Regions from separate parts of the Homo sapiens genome. Here region 2 is linked to region 1. A link means that fine-mapping ties the variant in region 1 to the expression of a gene that starts in the linked region. Tissue or cell type: whole blood. Region 1 holds a variant in brackets; the other region holds the start of a gene. Each region is shown on its reference strand, or each on the opposite one.

Region 1 (2,903 bases):
GAGGCCCCTCTTAATAAAATGCAAGGACACCTGACCAGCCTTGGGTTAGAGGCCCAACTTAGGAGGGTCTTAGAGTATATAAAATTTAGGGAGTTAAAAAATCGAACAGGAAACATTATCATATATGAAACAGTGTTTGGCTTTCTTTGTGCTATATTTGTACAAATGTGTTACTCGTATATGTTCCAAAATAACGGGAAACTCCTATAATTCTGATATGACTTAGTGTATATTATTAAGTGTTATAATTGTTATGTAAAATTGTTATATGCCACAGAAGTAACCAAATTTTCTTTTCAATTGTGACTTTAACATTGGCTGTCCTAAGACTTTTTGTCATCCACAGACACGTGTTGTCTTGTTTTGGTTCTCTTTAGAAGGTTGGTTTATAGTCAGCTATAGAACTCTTAACAGATGTACTTAAATGCAGATTTTCTGATAATTTTGGAGATTGTAACATCACAATAGAGGGAAAACATTCAAGACTCTCATAGAGAGCTGAAATGTTGATGAATATCAAACAAGTTAATTGCATGGACTAAACTAATAGAGGTCTAACTGCTTAAAACATTGCTAATCCTATGTTTTGTTTTTCAGAGTCAAGAAAACTTTCCTTTTGAGCTCTTTACAGCTTGTAGCAATTAATTAAGGTATACTCCTGTGAACAAAATTTGGAGCTTTTGTTTCTCTCTACCTGATTTCTCCAGAATTTGGAAACTATTTGTGAGCATTCTTAACTAATGGCAATATAGTTATTTGCATAAGTGCAATAAGAATCTCTTTTCTTTTGAAACAGGACACAATTGGAGAAACTGGTTGTTTTACCAAGGCTTTAACTGTAATGGCATGCTTATCTTTAAGGAATCAAATTTGACTTGTAGAGCCAATAAAAGCCCCTTGGGAACTGGTCTCATACCTTGCCTGTACAGTCCCTGTACAGGGTTTCTGACCTATGGTAAGTAATGTCACATTCTAACAGGTCCTGGAGCCCTAAGTTATCTTGGAAACCCAAGAAGAGAGGAATTTACTCAACTCATAGGCATTTAAGGGTACAAGCCCATGGCTGGGCTTGGCTTTAAAAAAGTCCTTATCTGATGTTCCTTCTATGGAACAGATTTCCAATAAGCCAATTTAAAAAGAACTTATGTGAAATAATTATTCTTGCTGCACTTTATAAAAATAATCAAAAAATTGGGAACTGGAGAGAGGAATATTATGTTTCAAGAACTATGGTACACTCATTATTAAATTCTAGTCTCAACAGTTGTTTTAGTTTTTTTCTGCAATTTAGGCAAACCCTGCTTATTCCCATGAACCAAACAGTCATCTCTGGCTACTACACAGAAGAAACAAGAGGGGTGGGTAATATAAAAATCTGAATCAGTATTCTAATTCTGGGCACACTGGAATTGGCTAGCAACCCAATAACAACTTGGTTCCAACAGTTGCGCAGTTCATGGAAAGCCTTCTTACTTAGTTTACTTGGGACAATTTTACTTATTTTGCTTTACTATTGTGAAATATATTGCC[A/G]TTGTACTCTTTATGGAAGAATGCAGGACAAGCTTATTAAGTGTTTTCTTAAACTGAACACTTACTAATCTTCCAGATGTCACTTCTTGTCAGAAATCATGAGTCATGAATGGCTGTCTCCATACTAATGCTTTATACTGAGCTCTTCTCTACCCTGAACACAAGAGACCCTCACTGTTAGGCAGGAATATCATTATCCCTATTCAGCCTGAAGAAGTTACAGAAGATGAATCCTCTCTGCAACCCTTAGGTTGCAGAGTGGGGAAATGTCAGAGGTGTGTAAACAAAAGCAACTCCATCTTGAATAGGAGCTAGGTAAAATGAGGCTGAGAACTACTGGGCTGCATTCCCAGATGGTTAAGGCATTCTAAGTCATAGAATGAGATAGGAGGTTGGCACAAGATACAGGTCATAGAGACCTTGCTGATAAAACAGGTTGCAGTAAAGAAGCCAGCCCAAACCCACCAAAACAAAGATGGCGATGAAAGTGATCTCTGGTCATCCTCACTGCTACACTCCCACCAGTTCCATGACAGTTTACAAATGCCATGGCAATGTCAGAAAGTTACTCTAAAGGGTCTAAAAAGGGGAGGCATGGATAATTCATCCCTTGTTTGGCATATCATCAAGAAATAACCATAAAAATGGGCAACCAGCAGCCCTTGAGTCTTCTCTGTTGATGGAATAGCCATTCTTGTATTCCTTTACTTTCCTAGTAAACTTGCTTTTGCTTTGCACTGTGGACTTGCCCTGAATTATTTCCTGTGTGAGATCCAAGAATCCTCTCTTGGGGTCTGGATCAGGACCCCTTTCCTGTAACACCAACACTTTGAGACCCTCTAGGCGGCTAAGAGGTACATCTCTCTGAGGTTTTTAGAGCAAGTGAATCCAAAACAAACAGTAAACAATGCTCTCAAACTGCAATGACATATTCATTAAATATGACATACTTTTTCGATGATCTCTTTTTCATTAAAAACTATGTTAGCTACATTTTAAAATCTATTTGAAAAAATTTATATATTTTATGGATATCACAGGTAAGGAAGTATATATGAGGCAGATTTTTATAAAACTATGATGATATGACATGTCTGGAAATTAGCACTTTATGTACCTGATGTTCTAATACTTGAAATACAGTTTTAAAAAGAGCCCAATTAAATGAATAATTGTGAGCAACAAGCATGTCTGGTGTATTTAATATAGTAATTATCCTAACTCAGTTTTCCTCAATATAAATCCAAATAGTAAAAGAATTATAGAACATTTCATAAACGTGACCTTTAGTAAACATGTTCCATGAAATTTGATTTCCACAAGTTAATTTGAAAGGACTTATTTTGGATCATGTCATAAAAGAGAGAAAAAAG
Region 2 (2,896 bases), not on the chromosome of region 1:
CACCAGCACACCCCTGCTGCAGCAAGCCTCTCTGGAGGAGGAGGAGAGGGTGGCGTCCCGGGCAGCTGGCACGGACTGTGCAGACCGGCCTCAAGGCCAAGGTGAGGAACTGGGAAGGCCACCTCGACGGCTGTGTTTCTTGTGTAGAGAATTATCTCAGAGAGAAGCGACTACTATAATCAGCTGAAGCAGAAAGGCGTCAAAGTGCCCCCCCTGCAACAGTCAGAGGCCTTCCTGACCAGCAAATCCAAGAAGGGGACCTCCAAGTAGGCCCAGCCAGGCCCCCAAATACGGTCAGCCCAGCAGAGGCCGGGGCCCAGCTCCAGAACCACCCGCCCCCACCATGCGTCCTGCTCTCAGACTCAGAATTAAACCCCGGTGTTGGCACTGTCCCACCTTTTTCTTCTCTGGGATCCACGCGGGGGCCTACTCTCCTCTGCGACCTTGAGCTACAAGGACACTCCCCATTCCAAAGCTCACTCACAGGGAGTCAGCACACCAGCCTGTGCCCCTAGCTCCTAACAGGTCCCCTTGCGGCACCAGGCTGCCAGAGGCCTGAGCCGGGGTGTCCGCCCAGCACTCAGCACAGACCTCACGCCTGAGCAGAAGGGGTCTGTGACCTTCTGCCCTGGGGGCTCTCCTGGCTGGGGCACTCTCTTGCTGGAGGACCCCTCTGGAAGATGGTGAGGGTGGGGGGCTCTGTTCCCATCCCCCCGCTCCTGGAAGGAAAGCTTTACGCACGGGAACGGTGTCTGTGGTCCCCGACGCTTCCCCGGCGCCTCTGAGGCTCTGGGCGCCTGAACACCTTCGGAAGGGACTCTCCCCATTACCCTTCTCTGCTCCCCACCCACACCTGCTTCCCTTCCCGCCGCGAGCACCGAGCGTGGGCCACGTGCGGGCGCCACGCCCCTCAAGCCCCGGAGGAGGACGGTCCCCGCGGCCGGGTCCCCGAACCCAGCATTCAGGCCCAGACGCGCCCAGAGCCTCCCGCAGTCTCGTCGGCGCTGCAGCCGGGTCCCCGCGGGGCTGGGAGGCTCGTGGCGTCGGAGGGGCTCCAGCAGGGGTGAAGGAGGTCGGGGACCCTGGAGGCCCCAAGGGCGAGCCGTCTGGGGGCAGAAAGTGCAGCCCTCTGCAGACCCTGCCCGGCCCCCCTGCACCTCCTGGCCCCGGGGCTGGGCGGCCTAGAGCCCCGGCCCCTTCCGGACGAGGCGTCTCCCGGCCCCACTCGCCCCGCCCCCAGCCCCTTCTGGACCAGGCGCCTCCCCGCTGCGGCCCTAGCCCTTCCCCGCATGGCCCCGCCCCCCTCTCGCCCCGCCCCCTCTCGCCCCGCCCCCGGCCCCTTCTGGACCAGGCGCCTCCCCGCTACTGGCCCCAGACCTTCCCCGCATGGCCCCGCCCACCACTCTAGCCCCGCCACCTTCCGGACCAGACACCTCCCCGCTGCTGGCTCCAGCCCTTCCCCGCGTGGCCCCGCCCCCGCCCTCGCCCCCTGCCCAGGCCCGGCCCCTGCGGAGCCCAGAGACGCGGGGACACAGGTGAGGCGCGCGGGGTCCGGGCTGCGGCTTCCCGGTGCGGCCGCAGTGGGCAGGTGCGACTGTGCGCGGCCTCGCTGGCTGAGAACTGGCGGGGGTGGGGGCGTGCCCTGGACTGACCCCCACCGGCCTAACCCGCGGTGCGGGGCCAGGGCCGGAACTGCCCGCCCGGCTCCTTGCCCGGCTCCTTGTGGCTGCTGGGGACCCCCGACACCAGCCACTTTCCCTTCCCGGCCCTTAGCAAGATCGGCTTCTCCGGTCACCTTTATTTTTTTAGGCTCGAGGCGTCTGCCGCACCTCAGCCCACGACCTGCCCCGCTGGGAGGTGCGGGCCGCTGGCCAGGCCCTGACCGCAACCTGGCCCAGAGGCCCCAGCCCTCAGGCAAGGTTCTCCGGGTAAGTGTGGGGCCCTGAGGCGCTGTGGGGTGAAGAGGTCTATGGAGGGGCGCCTGTGTACCTAGGGCCTTCCTGCACTCACAAGCCCCCAGGAGGTGCCAGGATCCGGGAGCCTCCCAGGGCCTGGAGGGGAGTCCCTGATGGGTTCCTGCCGCCACACCTGTGACCATCACATGAGTGTGGAGAGACGTTTACTGAGCAAGTGAGGGAGGCCAGCCTCAAGGGCCGGCTCTGGTGGCTGTGCACCGGGGTGACTTGGGAACAACGTGTTCTACGTCAGCAAGACAGGAACCCATGATCCCAGAGTTGAACACACTGGGCTTGACCCCTCCCACCGGGAGGCCCATGGTGGGCTGCTGCTGTGGACTTGGAGCCTCAGCACTCCCGAGACTAATGCTGCGTGGATGTCGGGTTGCAAGGCGGCTGCTGCAGCTCCAGCAGCTCCAGCCATCACGTCGAGTCTGGAAGAAGGAGGTGGCTGCTGCTGCTTTCACAGAAGCAAACTCTCCCATCCCCTGCTGCACCCTGGCTCCTGGACCCCAGCTGGGTGACTTGGGAAAGCAGGGGTGGTGGTATTAAGCTTGTCTTACCCGGGTCATGGCTGTTACCTGGGGCTGGCACATTGCTGCTGGGACCAGAATGGGATTCTGCACACCAGGCAAGAGGGCGTGAACCTCGGGTAGGCAGCTGACCGCTCCACATGCTCCGGGAAAACAGCACCCATACTCCAGTAGAGGCTGGGCCTCTCCGGGCCTGAGTGCCAGGCTGCACTGAGCCAGGGCTCCCACCGAAGGCACACTTTATGGCTTTGAGACAGCTCCTTCTGCCTCTCTGGGCTTTGGGGGAAGGCAGACATGGAAGTGCCGGGAGTCTCAGAACTGCCTGGGGCCTGAGTTTCTGAGCTGGCTTCTTGCAGGGGAGTGGCTGCTGTGCCTTTAGGCCTCTGTGCCGATGACCTGGGAGGAAGG

What was found. PIP is the estimated chance that this variant, and not a neighbour inherited with it, causes the effect. A credible set is the group of variants that fine-mapping cannot tell apart.
Region 2: SMIM1 starts here. The variant in region 1 is the best candidate, but not a certain one, in a credible set for the expression of SMIM1 in whole blood (TOPMed, PIP 0.67).

Annotation. Positions count from the first base shown.
Region 1 is chr2:82,130,287-82,133,189 of GRCh38, forward strand. No RefSeq gene overlaps it. Among named protein-coding and RNA genes, the nearest start is that of LINC01815, 660 kb to the left of the region's middle. The variant A/G (reference allele first, on the strand shown) is at 1,531.
Region 2 is chr1:3,771,254-3,774,149 of GRCh38, forward strand. SMIM1 (small integral membrane protein 1 (Vel blood group)) reads left to right here and starts at 1,496. Exons shown (of 4, transcript NM_001288583.2): 1 at 1,496-1,535; 2 at 1,810-1,928. It overlaps CCDC27 (coiled-coil domain containing 27), which reads left to right. Exons shown (of 12, transcript NM_152492.3): 12 at 148-392. The coding sequence ends at 270. RefSeq lists enhancers at 1-557, 1,844-2,359, 2,360-2,875 and a silencer at 903-1,782.